2 separate regions of the Homo sapiens genome follow, and region 2 is linked to region 1. Evidence: fine-mapped expression QTL. A gene starts in region 1. The other region holds a variant in brackets. All regions are shown on one strand. Distances are from middle to middle.

Region 1 (8,318 bases):
TGGCAGGGCCTGTGCCAGGTGCCCCGACCACTTTCCCCAGAGCTGGCAGAGCAGCCCCCGGCCCAGCTGCAAAGAGGCAGCACCTGGGCACCCACCTGCCTGCCTGCCATAGGCTGTGGGGTGGCTGGTCAGACAGCCCCATCCTCAGCAGCCAGCTACTCTGTGCAGCTTGAGGGCACTGCCAGGGTCCCCTCCAGCTCAGTCAGGGCTGGCAGGCTCCCAGCCACACAAGCACAGCCCCCGTGCAGCCCTGGCTCTGGAGCCCAGGTAGGGCTCCCCCCAGCTCACCCTGAACATCTGCTTCACCCTCTGCCGGGGCAGGTTCACGTTGAGCTTGTGCAGCAGCTGCAGGACCTCGCCAATGCTCAGGCTGCCATCCCCGTTCTTGTCGGCCTCGTCAAACGTCTGCTTCAGCCACTTTGGTGCCGAGTTAGGGGCCAACAGCGATCCATGGGCCCAGCCCTGACACCTCCACCCTCTGGCCTAGGGAGGAAGGAATAGGGGACCCCAGCCTACCGGCCACTTCCCCAGTGTGTGACCCGGCAAAGGACAGGCCCCCCCAGGGTGAGCAGCCAAGGGGCCGGTCCCTGGGTCTGCATTGCCCGATAGGTGCCCAAGGATATTGGTCCCTGGTGCGCTGGCGGCGAGCCAGGCTGTCCTCGTCGCTGATGCCGGCCATGAGGTAGCGCAGGCCAGTGACCCAGGTGCGCGCCACCTCGCTGCTGGTGGAGACCAGGTCCAGCGACTCGCGGTGGCTGCCGTGGTAGATGCTGAAGCAGCAGTTGGGGTCGAAGCTGCCGTCAGGGTAGCGCTGGAAGACCTCCGACTGCCGCCCCTCACTCACCTCCTGGATGGAGTCGATGGAGACTGCGGGGTGGGGAGGGAGCACGGGTCAGGTCCCCGGGGGCCCAGCGTCCCCCTGCTGGCAGCCCCAACACTGCGGAGACCAAGCAGCCGGGAGCTCCTTGCCCACCTTTGCGGGACCCTCGGCAGGGCTCAGGGTCCAGAGTTCAAGAACCAAGGGTGAAGATCTGCGAGACTGCACAGCCCCCCACTGCTGACCCGTGTCCCTCCCCCTTTCCCTTTCCTGTGGAAAAGACACGCCCCCACGAGGGAGAGCATCCACCTCCCTCCACCTGCAGCCCCCAGTGCCCGGCTGGCCCGGGGCTCCACGTTTAACCAGCACGTCTCCACGTTCCAAGGAAGCCCCTGGACACCTCCAGGGCTCCAGCGCCGCAGGTGGGGACAGCGGCTCCAGGGACCCCCAGCTCCGCGCTCAGGTGCATCGAGGCTCTTGTGACCTCAGGTCCCCCTGGGGGCTCCGCAGCGCGACTCTCTCCACGGGCCCAAAGTGGCTACACGCTTGGCAACTGCTGGGCTGAGGCCTTGCCTGGCATGCCTGGGTCCTGACCATCAGCAAAGCCATCAGAAACCCTGGCTGCGCCCTGATCCCAGCCCTTGAGGACTGCCATGTCTCTCCCCAAACCGTGGGACCCTACCCGTTCCCTGTGTGCCTCAACTCTCCCCACCCACCCCCTGCACAGAGCCTCCATCTCGGGTGGCCCCTGCTCCCTCCAGCAGCCATGCCCAGTGGCTGCCTGAGCCACTGTTTGCACCCATACCCATCCATCAGCATACCTCTGTGGGGGTCGTTTCTGTTTATGGGGAGCTGTGACCTCCCCAGCTAGATGGACTATGCTGTGCCCCTCCTTCCAGCCCAGCACTCAGCACAGGGCTGGGCACAGTGCTACTCGGTCCTCACTGAGTCCCAGGGAGCTCTGCCAGGCGGGCAGGGGGCCTGGATCCCTCCTACCCCACAGCCCGAGGTCACTGCAGATCCCCAAGGCCACTGAGCCCAGAGGTGTCCAGGCCTAGGGTCTCGCTGCTCCTCAGCCATCAGTGGCTGCCCTGGGAGGGTCCCTACCGTCGTGTCCCCCCAGGGACTCTGATTTGTCCCCACCCCAGGGCTCCCACTCACTCTTGGCCTTCTCGTTCTTGCGTGAGGGCCTCCAGCGGATGCAGGAGCGGTGCTCGTCCAGGTAGTAGAAGCGGACCAGGCCCTTGGAGCCGCCACGCAGCTTCACCATCTGCATCCCCTCTTGCATGGCACCCATGCACCGCTCCACTGGACACGGGAGAGACACGGCTGTCAGCGGAGGCACAGCCACTCCTCGCAGGAGAGACACGGCCGTCAGCGGAGGCACGGCCACTCCTCACGGGAGAAACACGGCCGTCAGCGGAGGCACGGCCACTCCTCACCTCGCCCGGCCCCGCCCACACCGCCCTGCCAGTGACAGGGCAAAGGCCAGAGCCCAGGGCCACCTCCACCCCAGGTGCCGGCTTGCCTGGGTCACACAGCTCAGCTGGGCCCTGCCACTCCTCCCCAGATGGTCCTGGGAACTGAGGGCCCTGCTCCCCACCCTGCTCGGCCACCTGCCACTCCCACCACCTCCTGGACCAGTCCTAGCAGCCCTGGTAACCGGCGCTGGGCCTGGGGCCCCGAGAGCTACCACTCAGACGGAGCCAGCACAGAACTCAACAATGGGAAGGCCGGGCACGAGGCAAGACAGATGAGGTGGCTGGGCTGGCTGTCTGGGGCCATAGTGCAGTGGAGGCCCCTTGTCAGGGGCGGGGTGGGCCTAGCAGGCAGCAACCCCATGCCCCTGCCCCCGCCCCTGGCCACAGGTGGCTCCTGGGAGCGGTCGAATTCCTGAGTGCCTGTGCCCCTGCCTGGGGCATCTCCAGGAAAGCCCCCACCCCTCATGTGCAACAAGCGCCACGAATGGTGCCATGAATGTCTGCGTCGCACGCCCTGCACTGCAGTATGGACTTGGGAGGCTGTGGTGCCGGATCCGAGCTTCACAACCCCTCCCCTCCCCTCCCCCAGGCTGCCTGCCTCGCTCCTTCTCTCCCCTCCTCTCTCCATTCAGCCTCCTGCTGTAGCTTGTCCCAGGAGAGGGGGCTGCAGGGTCCAGGGAGTCCAGGCCAGAGTCAGCTGTCCCAGCCCAGGAACAGACTGGTCTCACCCCCTCGGTTCCTGCACACCTGCTCACAGAAAGCCCGGGTCCCAGAGGTACCATCTGCTAAAGCACAGAGACGTTAATCCCCACCCCAGGTCTGCACGCTGAGGGACCCTGGCGGGGGCGTTGTAGAGGACCAAGGGCAGTACTGGCCGGGCCTTCTTGGGGAAGCTACTACGTGATCACGAGCAGAGGGGAATTGAAGGGATGGAAGCCATGGCATGGGGGGCTGGGCTCTCCGGGGCACATGGGAGGTGAAGACGCAGGTATGGCTGCAGGGATTTAGGAGAGGGGTGAGGCAGGACACAGGGGCAGGGGGCGGGCAGAGGCCTGCAACAGGGCAGCCTGGACAGGACCCTGTCTGCCGCTGGAACAGAGAGCTGGCAGGCCAGCCCGGACCGGGGCCCTCCACAGGCCACCACAAGACACACACTCCACCCTCCCAGCCATACCCAGCCAGTCTCCTCTGCAGAGTCTCCTAACGGCAAAGGCCCTCATGTCCGGCACCAGGATGCCAGCCCAGCCGCCTGGGCTGCAAGCACCACTGACCCCCAGAGCACAAGGCACCCCTTCAATGAGAGCATTGGAGCCACCTGAGATCCCCCCTCGCCCCCTTGGGTTCAGCCCCCAGGCCCTGCAGGTGCCTGGGAGACCGAGGTGTGCTGAGCACGCCTCTGAGCGGCTGAGGGGCAGGGCCAGCCGACGCTGCTGGACCCACATGATCCCTAGAGCACCCGGGGGACAGGGGAGGCGAGTGCAGGATGGGATGGAGGCCCAGGCTTCCCCCACCTCCAGGAACAGCCCCCACCCACCAGTCACCTGGCCAGGGCCAGCACTCAGCCCAGGCCACTCGCCTGCCCCTTCTTACCCAGGGGGCCGAGCTGCCACTCTGAAGACAGCACCACACTCCCTCCAACCCAGAGGAGTACCTCCGCCAGCCAGGCCACCGTTCCCTTGGTCCGGCTGTCGGGGGAGGGCCATGGACCAGACATGGCCTGACGACAGCCGGGCCTGCTTCACGGAGGCCACAGAGGCCCACCGGCCTTCGGGCAGCGGAGGTCAGGCAGTGGCAGCGCTGGCGACAGGACCTCCGTGGGGCCTTCTCTCCTCTGCCTCTTCCTCCTCCTCCTCAGGGCCCTCCGAAGCCCCCACAGGGCTGTGCCCAGGCCCGGCTGGCATTGGCCTGACCGTCACCTGCTGTCCTGATGGCCCCCAGGCCAGCCTATCCACCCTCCAGGGCCACCAAGGAATCCCTGACGCAGCCGCCTCCCAAGGCTGGGGGAGCAAAGGACCTCAGCCCCGCCCAGCCCCAGGCCCAATCCCTGTGCTAATCCCAGCTCCAGCCCAGCTGGTGGAGGATTTAGGCCGAGGGAACTCCCAGCTGGGGATGGGAGGGCACTGGGGAGGCAACAGAGTTTCCCAAGGCCCCAGGCCACCAGACCCAGGTCAGGGCTGCGGGACAAGAGCAGGACCAACGGGAGGGCCCTCCTGGGACCCAGAGAACGCAACCGGAAGGCCTGCAGGGTACTGTCCTCCGAGGACCCTGTGTGGGGTGGGCCTCCCCGCTGTGCGCCCACCACAGATGCCGAGGCTGGGCCTGGAGTGGTCCCTGCCCTCACCCCGCATCCCTACTTATGAGGACCTCTGAGTGGATCCCCAAAGTCCAGAGGCAGGTGGCCCAGAGCAGGGGCAGAAGCTCACCTCATCCCCGCAGCGCCCAGCCCCTGTGGCTGGAGAGGGGAGCCGAGCCGGATCCCTTACAGCGACAACTCCCAGCCCAGGCCCAGGATGTGGGTCCCTGAGCCTGGGTTGGGCTCTCCATGTCTCCCTCATGCAGCTGCAGCCCCAGCCTGACCTTTCTCCACGGTCACCGAGCTGTGGCGGAGGAGGTGGCCCCATGCCCAGGGCACGTTTGTCCCCACATTCTGCCCTGCAGGGATGACAGCCATCTGACCTGGACAGGGGCCTCGCCCAAGGAGGACCCACCCCACCGTCTCAGCTCCCACTGAGGAAAGGACTCCAGGTCCCACTGCCACCAGGACCACACAGCCCACCCTGTGTACTGGCCCCGCACTACAGGACAGCACAGGCTCTCCCATCCCCAAGTCCAGGCCGGGACACCAGGGGCAGCTGTGGGAATGGGAGGTGGGCAGACCCCGGCTGAACACCAGCCACCTGTGTCCTGGCCATGCCCATGCTTCGTGACCACACTGGGGAGAACCCCGCCCTTCTTCCCACCCACTGCCCAGGCTCTACTGGCTCCAGCAACAAGGACTGGAAGGTTCCGGGCAGCTGCTCGCCTCCCCCCATACCAGGGGAGGAGTTTGGCCTGCAGAGCCCAGGACAGGGAGGTGCCAGGGCTGGGCATCCTGGCAGAGCCCCGGGGCCAAGGTCAGGCGTGGGAGGTGGCAGTCCCTGAGGAGATGGCCATGCGTCTCCAGCTGACCACTGACAACCAGGGCCACACCCAGCCAGATCAGATGCAGTCAGCACAGAGCCAACCCAGGCCCCCACCAGGGGCCCCGTCACAGGCTCTGCTGCTCTCGGCGGAAGCAGGTCAGCAGGCGTTTCTGGGCTCTGCCGTGGAATTAGATTAGGGAGCCATGAGCTGCAGGGAGAGGAGAGGGGCTGGAGTCCCGGGCGTCCTCAGGAAGACAGGGCCTCGGGGAAGGCCACCGTGTAAGGGGCAGCGCAGGGGCCAGGAGGTGGCCTGAGGGCCTGGAGACAGACCAGACGGCCATAGCCCTGGCCCAGGGCCCCTGCCCACCTCATACTGGGCTGCTGCGGGCTTCCACTCTGACCCAGGGGGTCCAGTTCTCCTTCCTGCACCTCAGAGGCCTCCTGGCCTGGGACACACCTGCTGTTCCCTCACCCTGGGCCTGGCCCCAGCTGGGGGTGCTCCCGTCTCTCACCCATCCCTCCTTGAAGCTCCCCAAGGCTGGGCCTCTGCTCCCTCCCTCCCTCCCTTGAGCTCTCAGCCACTAGCTGATCCCCCATCAGCTGGGGTTAGGGCTTGGAGGCCGCCATCTGCCTGGGCAGGGGTTCTGAGAGGAGCCACACATAGAGTGCCTGGCCCCAGCCCCACAACGTGGGTCCCAGGCTCCTGCACCCCAGGCCCCCTGACCTCCTCAGCAGCAGAGCTGGAATCCTCAACTGTCCAGGCGGGTGGAGGCCTGGCTAATCCCTTCCTGACACAGGCCTCTGCCGGGGGCTGCCCTGCCTGCCCTGAGGTCCAAAGGGACCGCCCACTCCCCTCCAAAACTCAGGCAGACACAGAACCGCAGCTGCAGCGTGAAGCCGGGGGTGCCCCGGGCCAAGAGACGTGGCAGGGGCCCAGGCCCAGAGACTTAAGAACCCCTCCCCACGTGCTGCCTGTGAGCCGGCCCAGGGCCCAGCCCAGCCCCCACACAAGGTCACGGAGGGGGCTGCCCCACCCCCATGCCGGCAGGCGAGCCCAGCCCCACAGCCTGCACTGACGGGCCCTCATGCTCACCCTGCCTGCCCTGAGCCAGGGCCCGGCCATCCTGAAAGCCCACAGGGAGGCCGAAGAAGCCACGCTCTGCTCTGTGGTTCCACACAGGGGCCCAGCCCTCAGCCATGGTCCACACCCACCCCCAGGCCGCCTCGGCCCCTCCCGTGAGCCTGAGCCAGGACACCTGATGTGGGAGCTCAGGTGGGATTGTAGCAATGCACCTGGCTGTGGGCCCACACCAGAGGCCAGACTGGGAAGGGCCGGCAGTCCTGGTCGGGCAGATATAGGCTCCGTCGGGGAGAGGAGGGCCCTGGCTCACCTGCTGCTCCCCCAGGTCCCTGCACAGCACAGTGGGGCTCCCCAGTCCTCAGAGCACTGCCTGACCCCGGGACATCCCTGGGGCAGGGACCTCGAAGTCCTCCTCCCTGCTCTGTCCCTGTGAGGCCATGATCCAACACGTAGCAGGCGCTGGCTGGACACAGGTGGACAGGGAGGGACGGGCAGGACAGAGGCAGCTAAGGCCACCAGGCCTGCTCTGAGGAGGTGACGGGAGCCAGTGTCCACACTGGTGTCCAGGGTCCAGCTCTCAAGGGTCTGGCCGGCTTCAGCCCTGGGCCTGGAGAAGCCTCCCACACAGATGCACCCAGATGGGCGGATGGGTGGACAGACGGGCAGACGGGGCTGCACCCCAGTTGGGGAGAGTGCATGGGAGGGCTCTGCGGGCCCCACGGTGACACGCAGAGGAATGCGCCCGTGATCCCCTGGGCTCAGCCCCCGCACCTGGGCTGCACCGGCCCACCCTGACTGCCTGGCCCTGGTGGCTGCTGGGAAGCAGGGGTCCTGGGCCTGCCCCCCGACCTTGGGTTGTCCTCCCTGTCTCAGTGCCTCAGTTTCCCCACTGTGAGAGGTTTGCTCCTGCAGCCCCTTCCTTTCTTCCCAAGGCTGGAACCGGGCGGGTGGCAGCTGATTAGAGGAAGAGCGCGCGCTGTCAGAAGCCAGGGCGGTGTTGGCTTAATTTTGTTTTTATGGCGGAGATCGATCTTGTCCTAACACAGCAGGCAGCATGGGCCTCGCGGCTGTCATCAACAAGGGGCCAGCGGTGGCTCAGCATCTCCGCCTCTCCCCTGGGGAAGGCTGGAAAATAATGAATCTTCCAACAAAACCCACAAATCACACCCACAGGCCTCCCGGCATGTACACACACACCCGGGGCAGCTTTGGGTACCGCAGCCCCTCCCACGACAGGGGCATGGGGACTGCACATGCCCCTCCACCAACCTCTTCCCTTCACGAGCGTGTACGGGACGGGCAGGGGCCCCACCTCTTCCAGGCCTGTCCAGAGGTGGCCCTGGCTGCCTCTAAGCCCCCTCCTCTCCCGACGCTTGCTGCCTTTCAGCAGGACATTTCAAAGGACCTCCCTGGGCCCACCCGTGTCTCCCTCTGAAGCCCCCACAGGGCTGTGCCTGGGCCCGGCTGGCATTGGCCTGACCGTCACCTGCTGTCCCAATGGCCCCCAGGCCAGCCTACCCACCCTCCAGGGCCACCAAGAGTCCCTGAGGCAGCCGCATCCCAGGGCTAGGAGAGCAAAGGACCTCAGCAGCAGTGAGGCATGAGGGCCAGATGCTCCTGCAGCCCTTCCTGGCCCTGGCTCTTCCGCGCCCCCCTGCCCCTCGCAGCCCCAGCATCCCCCTCCCGTGCTGCCCCCAAGGGCCGGCCCAGCATGCAGGAGGGGCTGAGGCTGTGCTTGGGTGGACGGGAGGGAGGAGGAAGTGGCCACCTTGCCCCAGCCACAGTGCTCACTGGAGATCAGCCGGGCCCCTGGACTG
Region 2 (8,318 bases), 53 kb after region 1:
ACAGGGAGAGCCCAGGTACCTGCTCAGGGCCAGCGAGTCCAAGCCGGCTCCCACCCCTGGAGGGCTCCCACCCCCGGAGGGCTCCCACTTCTGGAGGGCTCCCACTTCTGGAGGGCTCGCCGGCTGCTTCTGTTTCAATACCTGCGGTGGCCCCTCACGCTGTGTCCCTTGGATCGCGAGCTCCCAGCAGAGGTACCGGAGGCCCCCACAAGCCCCGGCCTGCTCCTCTGACATCCTCCCATCCTCCCTCCCACCTTCTGCGGCAGTGCCCAGGAAGTGGGGTGCCACACCCTTGGCTGGTATCCCCTGGCTCAGGAAGCCCCCTGAGGGCAGGTAGAAGTGGGAGCCTCAGCCTCTCCAGGAAAGATGTCACAGAGGGGCTCCCTCTCCCTCCTGGCCTGAGGCCCCACTGGCCACCCAGCCCACAAGAGAGTCCACTCTCAGGAGGGAGAGATTGAGGCCCAGAGAGGGCAGGACCCTATCCCGGAGAAACCACCAGCAGGGGCGGCTGAGCTGGGGCGGGTTCGGCTGCCCCCAGCACCTGACTCGTCCCAGACCTGCGGCCCCGGGCCCCCACGAGAGACCCAGAGGGTGAGGGGACAGCCTGCCTGCCCCAGCTGCCCTCCTGGCCCCAGGGCGCCCCACTGCAGCCCACTGCCCAGCTCCTCAACGCCCCCAGGAGCTCCACCCGGTGGGCCCCTAGCCGCCGGCACCCGCTGTCACACAGAGGCCACCTCCTGCTACTTCCCTGCTACCCTGACTTCCGTCTCCAGGCTGAACGTGGGTCCCAGGTATGGAGACCCCCGGCCAAGACGTCCTGGGCATAGGAGGCAGACCAGGCCCCATGCCAGTGAGCCTATGGCTGGGCCTCTGCCACTCTGCCAGGGGCCACTGGCTGCCCACAGTCCTCCCCACTCTCCCAGCCCAAGGCCCCTCTGTGAGGCCCTGCTCCCACCCCTGGACTTAGCGGATGCAGGGAACACAGACCTAAGGCCCCGGAGAAGCCACAGGCCCCAGCAAGCTCAGCCGCTGCCCCCAAGCTGGTGGGGTTGCTGGAGCCCGCCTGGCTACGCCCACCTGCTGGCCTGGCCGCACAGGGAGACAAAGAACCCAGCAGCCCCGACCCCACAACCGTGTCAGGAAGTGCGAGGCTGAGGCCAGGCCCCTCCATGCTCACAGCGGGCAGGAATGCCAGCCTGCACATCTGCGCTCAGGGGCCAGCTTCATGGAGGGAGTGGAGCCCGCCCAGCTCGCCGGCACTCTGGAGACAGAGGGAGGGGTGTTTGACAAGGGAAGGGAAGACCGCGAGGGGCCAGCCCTAGGTCAGCGTGGGAGCACTGGGCCGAGCTCGTGTGTGTAGGCCGGGGACTCCGCCACTCTGACCCGGAGGGAAAGGCCCCCAGGACCCCATGGGGACTCAGGAGGCTGCTCACGGCAGCCCCGAACCAGGGACTTTGGGAGGCCATGGGGTGGGGGACACCCCGGAGCCCCACTCAGTGTTAGAAGCAAGAAGGGGAAGCTTAGTGCCAGGTGGAGAAAGTAAAGATCAGAACGGGGTGCTTGGCCAAACACGGGGCCATAGACACTGCTCCCCAGAGTGTGGCCCACATAACCCTGGGGTCCTCAGAATCTTCCAGGAGCCTGCAAGGTCTAAGCTGTTTTTATGTAAAGGAGGTGTCCCTTCCCCGCGCTGACATCTGCACAGATGGTGAAAGGCTCTGATGGGTGACACCCTGGGCCTCGGCTCAGATACAGTGTCCTTCACCAGTGCGTGCTCAGAATTAAAGCAGAGAAGAGGCCATTTCCCTAAGAAGGTCTTTGTTGAAACAGCACAAATGATGAACTGTACCAAAGCTCAGTTCCGTGCAGGGAGCCAGGGAGAACAGAAAGCTGCCGCAGCAAAGGGCGTTTTCCTGGGAGGAGGCTCTCGAGCGACGGGGACTCCAGCTGAATTAGCCGGGGGACCCACAGTATAGTGGGGAGCAGGACTTTCCTGGAAAGACAGCTGAGACACTGTGGTGCTGCCGGCCGTGTGCTGCATAGGTATTTCCTCAAAAATGCATGAGCCCAGCGCAGTGCCTCACTCCTGTCATCCCAGAACTTTGGGAGGCCAAGGCAGGTGGATTGCTCAACTGAGGAGTTTCAGACCAGCCTGGGCAACATGGTGAAACTCCATCTCTACAAAAAAAAAAAAAACACACCAAAATTAGCCAGGCGCGGTGGTACGTGCCTGTAATCCCGGCTACTTGGGGGTCTGAGGCAGGAGAATCACTTGAGCACAGAAGGCAGAAATTGCAGTCAGCCAAGATCATGCCACTGCACTCCAACCTTGGCAACAGAGGCAGACCCTGTCTAAAGCCTGCCACCTAAAAACCAGCAGAGCAGATCCAGCAACCCCACTCCTGCATATACTCCCAAAGGAAATGAAATCCACGTGTTGAAGAGACCTGCATTTCCATGTCCACTGCCACACTGTTCACAACAGCCGAGTTACAGAATCAGCCTGAGTGTCCATCAGTGGATGAGTGGATACAGAAAATGTGTGTGGGGGGGTGTATGTGTGTGTATATGTGTGTATGTATATGTGTATCTGTGCATGTGTATATATGTGTGTGTATATGTGTGTATGTATGTGTGTGTTACATATGTGTGTGTAAATATGTGTGTGTGTGCATGCGCCCAAGCAACGAAATACTATTCAGCTTTTTTTTTTTTTTTTTTTGAGACGGAGTGTCACACTCTATCGCCTAGGCTGGAGTGCGGTGGCGCGATCTCCGCTCACTGCAGCCTCCGCCTCCTGGGTTCAAGTGATTCTCCTGCCTCAGCCTCCTGAGTAGCTGGGATTACAGGTGGCCGCCACCACGCACGTCTAATTTTGTGTTTTTTGTTTTTTGTTTTTTTGAGACGGAGTCTTGCTCTGTTGCCCAGGATGGAGTGCAGTGGAGCAATCTCAGCTCACTGCAACCTTCGCCTCCCGGGTCCACACCATTCTCCTGCCTCAGCCTCCCGAGTAACTGGGACTACAGGCGCCCGCCACCATGCCCAGCTAATTTTTTTATTTTTAGTAGAGACAGGGTTTCACTGTGTTAGCCAGGATGGTCTCGATCTCCTGACCTCGTGATCCGCCCGCCTTGGCCTCCCAAAGTGCTGGGATTACAGGCATGAGCCACCGCGCCCGGCCTAATTTTGTGTATTTTTAGTAGAGATGGGGTTTTGCCATGTTGGCCAGGCTGGTCTCAAACTCCTGATCTCAAGTGATCTGCCTGCCCCAGCCTCCCAAAGTGCTGGGATTATAGCTGTGAGCCACCGCACCTGGCCTCAGCCTTTAAAAAGGAAGAAATTCTGTCATTTTCAACAACATGGATGGAACTGGAGAACATCAAGTTAAGTGATATAAGCCAAACCACAGGAGACAAATACCACATCTTCTCACTTATATGTAGAATCTAAAACACCTGAGCTCATAGAAGCAGGGTAGAAAGCTGGTCCCTAGAGGCCAGGGTTTGGGGAATGGGGAGATGATGGCCAAAGGGTGCCAGGCCTCAGTTAGACAGGAAGGGTATGTTTTGTGGTTTGGGGGAATTTTTTAGTTCTGTTGTGCAGCATGGTGAATATAATTAATAATAGAGTTTCGTGCATTTCAAAACTGCTAAGAGTACATGTCAAATGTTCTCACCACAAAAGATGGTAAATATCTGAGGTGATGGTTATGTTAATTAGCTTGATTTAAACTGAAATGATTGTATTTAAAAATCATAACATCACTATCTACCTCATAAATATATACAACTATAATCTGTCAAATATATACTTTTAAAAATGAAATTTAAAAATAAACAGGCCGGGCACAGAGGCTCATGCTGGGAGGCCAGGGTGGGAGCACCACTTGAAGACAGGGTTTGAGGCTGAAATCACCCCTGTAAACTTTATAAAATTATTCAGAGAAGAAGGGAGGGGGAGAAGGGAAAATGAACTAAGCTGGTGGTGCAGGCAGCGTCACGACGAGGTGGGCTGGCTCTCTGACCTCTCCTCATAACTGTTGCTGCCTACTGCCCCAGAATCACACAGACCCCGTCCCAAGATCATAGTTCCCCTAACTACC[A/G]TAGAGAGAACAACTTAAACATTGTAAAAGGTTGATTTCCATCTGAGATGCTCTTTCAGGTCCTGCATAACAGTAAAATTACTGATGCCAGCTGGTGGGAAGGACCTCACAGGAGCTGACTCACCAGCAAATGCATTTTCCACCTCCTGATTTCATCCCCCTTACCCCAACAAGTCAGTGACCCCAGCTTCTCCAGCCCCTCACCCTCCATAATCTCCTTAAGAACCCCAGCCCAGAACTCCAGGGGAGGTGGATTTGAGGGTCTCCTCCCATCTCCTTGCTTGGCACCTGCAATCATTAAGCTTTCTCTGCTGCAAACCCTGCTGTCTCCGTGTATCGGTTGGTTACTGTGCAGAGGGCACACCAACCTGGTGGCCTTGTAACAAGAACAGCAGGGACAACAGAGCAAGATCCCATCTCTTTAAAAAAAATAGCTGGGTGTGGGGGGATGTGCCTGTGGTCCCAGCTACTCAGGAAGCTGAGGCAGGAGGATTGCTTCAGCCCAGGAGTTCGAGGTTACGGTGAACTGTGATGGTGCCACTGCATTCCAGCGTGGGGGACAGAGCAAGACCTTGTCTCTAAAACAAACAAACAACAAACAAACAAACAAACAAAAAAACTAAATAAAACCCTCTCCAAAACAACACAAAACAGCAAATTGCAGGATCTGTTGCCAATAATAAAATTCAGGCTTAGGTAAAAATCAGCATTTTGGAAAACTTGTATTCATCACTGTGAGTCTATCAGCTTCCAAATATTTAAAGGCTTTTATCGTGAGATCGGGGTGATAGTAATGTGATTTTGGGATAATATTTAATAAAACGTGTCAAGATTTGAAAAATCTGCATAACTCAGTAAACCAATATTTTTCAAATTATTAATACCAAAACATGGTCTTCCAAAATTATGCACAGGTAAATTTCCACTCAAAGTGAAAAACAGGGCCAGGTACAGCGGCTCATGCCTGTAATCCCAACACATTAGGAGGCTAAGGTGGGAGGATCACTTGAGGCCAGGAGTTTGAGGCCACAGTGAGCTATGATGGTACCACTGCACTCCAGCCTGGGCAACAGAGCAAGACCCTTTCTCAAAACATAACAAAAACAAAAAACAAAGTAAAAACAGACCAACAGATGATAATGTAACACAACAGATGATAATGTAACAATACAAAAAGTCCATTGGCACGGTTTCAGATTCTGTTATCGCAACAACCTGTAAGAAACTCTACCATTCATCCAGTCCGGGTGTACCATCAGAGAAGAGTGTCCATGATTACCTGAAAAGGCGGCTCAGCCCTGTGAGGCCAGATCTCTTCACTGATTTCAACCAAAACACACTGCGACAGATGCAACGCAGATGCAGACAAACATTCAAGAGACTGCAAAACTGCAAAGCCACGTCCCTCTTCTCACTGGATTTTTTTGTTTTGAAAGTATTTTTCATAAAATGTTAACGTGTTATTTCTATTAACATGTCATTAGTTTATGGGTTTTTGTTTGTTTGTTTGTTTTTTGAGGTGGAGTCTTGCACTGTCCTCCAGGCTGGAGTGCACTGGCGCGATCTCGGCTCACTGCAACTTCCACCTCCTGGGTTCAAGCGATTCTCCTGCCTCAGCCTCCCGAGTAGCTAAGATTACAGGCACCTGCCACCATGCCCGGCTAATTTTTGTATTTTTAGTAGAGACATGGTTTCCATGTTGGCCAGGATGGTCTCAAACTCCTGGCCTCAGGTGATCCTCCTCCTTCAGCCTCCCAAAGTGCTGGGATTACAGGCGTGAGCCACTGCGCCTGGCCTTTTCTTCTTTTTTTGAGATAAAGTCTTGCTCCGTCGCCTGGGCTGGAGTGTAGTGGCGTGATCTTGGCTCACTGCAGCCTCTGCTTCCCAGGTTCAAGCAATTCTCCCGCCTCAGCCTCCTGTGTAGCTGAGATTACAGGCATGCGCCACCACGCCCAGCTAATTTTTGTATTTTTAGTAGAGACGGGGTTTCACCATGTTGGCCAGGCTGGTCTCAAACTCCTGGCCTCAGGTGATCCTCCTGCCTTGACCTCCCAATGTGCTGGGATTACAGGTGTGAACCACTGTGCCTGGCCCGTTGTTATTTTCAATAAGACTTCATGAATATTTTCATATTTTTTTATGAAGGTGGTGTAAACATGTGGTGTAAATATTCCCACTTGAGCCCACAGAGCACAGAGTGGGGAAGAGATGGACAGTATCATACGGCATTTCCACTAGACAGACACACACAGACTGCACCCAGATAACAGCGTGGATCACAGTAAGCTAGAAATAATTAGGAAGCAATACATTTTGAGTATTTATTTCCTTTGCTTTTTATAGTATTTCTGTGTTTTACATAATTTAATTACTTTAATTTGATTTGAATAATGGTTGTGTCCAACAACCAGCTGATGAGATTACTGGAGATGCTACCGTAGGTTCTGGTGAGCACGTGCAAGCCTGCTCCAGCACACACTACAGACAGCACCCCAAAACCAAAGCTCCTTGGGCTTCTCAACAGCTGCTAAGAGTGTTGGGGCCAGATGCAGTGGCTCACGTCTGTAACCCCAGCACTTTGGGAGGCCAAGGAGGGTGGATCATCTGATGTCAGGAGTTCGAGACCAGCCTGGCCAACGTGGTGAAATTCCGTCTCTACTAAAAATACAAAAATTAGCCAGGCGTGGTGGCGCATGCCTGTAATCTCAGCTACTCAGGAGGCTGAGGCAGGAAAATCGATTGAACCCGGGAAGCAGAGGTTGCAGTGAGCCGAGATCGCACCACTGCACTCCAGCCTGGGTGAGACTCTGTCTCAAAAAAAAAAAAAAAAGTGTGAAGGGATACTAAGGCCAAAACATTTGCACCCCACTAATAGTGATTAAAATACTCGCACCAGAACAACACAGCATTCTGGAAAATACAAAAAACGAGATACACACTCAACGCTCCTCAGAAGGAGTCCCAAGGGGGAAGAGATACTGATGTGGGTAAAGGCAATGAATCGATCGATCACTCACTCCACCCTCCAATCGAGAGAGGAGCGACTCCCACAGCCCTCCAGGCCTGAGGCCTGAAGAGGAGATTTTTCAAAATGGGGGTCTCTGGGTCAGAGGTCAGCTTGAAGCCTGCCCTTAAACTCTCCCTCTCTGACTCAGTTTCCTCATCTGTAAAGCGGGGTGCAAAGAGTGTGCCCCAGCCCTGGGGTCCTGAGAAGCTGGACCTGGCAGGCGGACTTGAGGCCCTTCCTGTGGTCCAGCTCCGGGACTCCCCAGCCCTCGGGGCTCTTTCTGCAGCCCCTACCTACCGGGACATAACCGTTCAGCCCCGCATCCCACTGTGGATCCGCAACCCCGCCCCTGCCTGGACCTTCTCCCCTTGCCAGCATCACTGGGCCCCACAGGCCCCCACACCCACCTCTCGAAGGAGGTGGAAGCTTTCAGACCTGCACCTGGGAAGCTTTGTCCTGAAATCACAGGGCAGGGGGCTGAAAGTGGAATCGAGCAGCGGGAGGAAGGACAAGAGGTAGGTGCTGCCTGGATGCCCCCCAGACACTGGCTCCTTTGGGATCCAAGTCTTGGGGAGGAGTTGGGGTCAGCTGAGAGGGATGTGAGGTAGGGGCTGGGGCGGGGGGCCTGTCTGAGTCCTTAACTCAGCACTGATGAGCTCCTGACCAATGACCAGAGATGGCGGGGAGTGGGGAGGCAGGTTACTGTTGCTGTGCCTGCCCCCACCCCCATAGCTGTACCCAGGCTACTGGGGAGGCAGCACAGGAGGGGGTAGTGGGGGGAGCGCACAAAGGGGTTGCCTGGGGGTGGGGGGGGGACTTGGCCTGCTATGCTTGAACTTTGAGTTGGCAAGAGCCGACTACGGGCAGCAGGTGCAGCAGTTCCGAGGCAGAAAGGGCCTGGCTGGCCCCAGCCCAGGGCTGGCTTGAGGGTCCCAGTCCAGCTTCTACGGACAGCTTCAGATTAATCCCCCAAGGATGAATATGGTGGAGCCCACAGGAAGAAGGATGAGCGGCCCCCAAGTCTCCAGAGCCCCATGTCACCACCTCCACCAGAGCCAGCAGCGCCTCCTCAAAGCTGGCCCCCGGGTCTGTGGATGCCAGGGTCAGGCACGGGGATCCCTGCATTGAGCTCCGGGCAAGAAGAGCCAGTGAGGTGGTGGGGTGGTAGATCTGGAGAGCCCCGGGCCCCTGCCTGCTCCCCTTCCGCCC

Evidence for each region.
Region 2: its variant is fine-mapped to the expression of PLCH2 in whole blood (TOPMed, PIP above 0.99).

Annotation. Positions count from the first base shown.
Region 1 is chr1:2,472,283-2,480,600 of GRCh38, reverse strand. It overlaps PLCH2 (phospholipase C eta 2), which reads right to left and starts at 4,312. Exons shown (of 22, transcript NM_014638.4): 1 at 3,889-4,312; 2 at 1,979-2,125; 3 at 624-867; 4 at 289-418. The coding sequence starts at 4,012.
Region 2 is chr1:2,419,569-2,427,886 of GRCh38, reverse strand. It overlaps a transcript of PLCH2 not described here. Among named protein-coding and RNA genes, the nearest start is that of PEX10, 11 kb to the right of the region's middle. The variant A/G (reference allele first, on the strand shown) is at 4,103.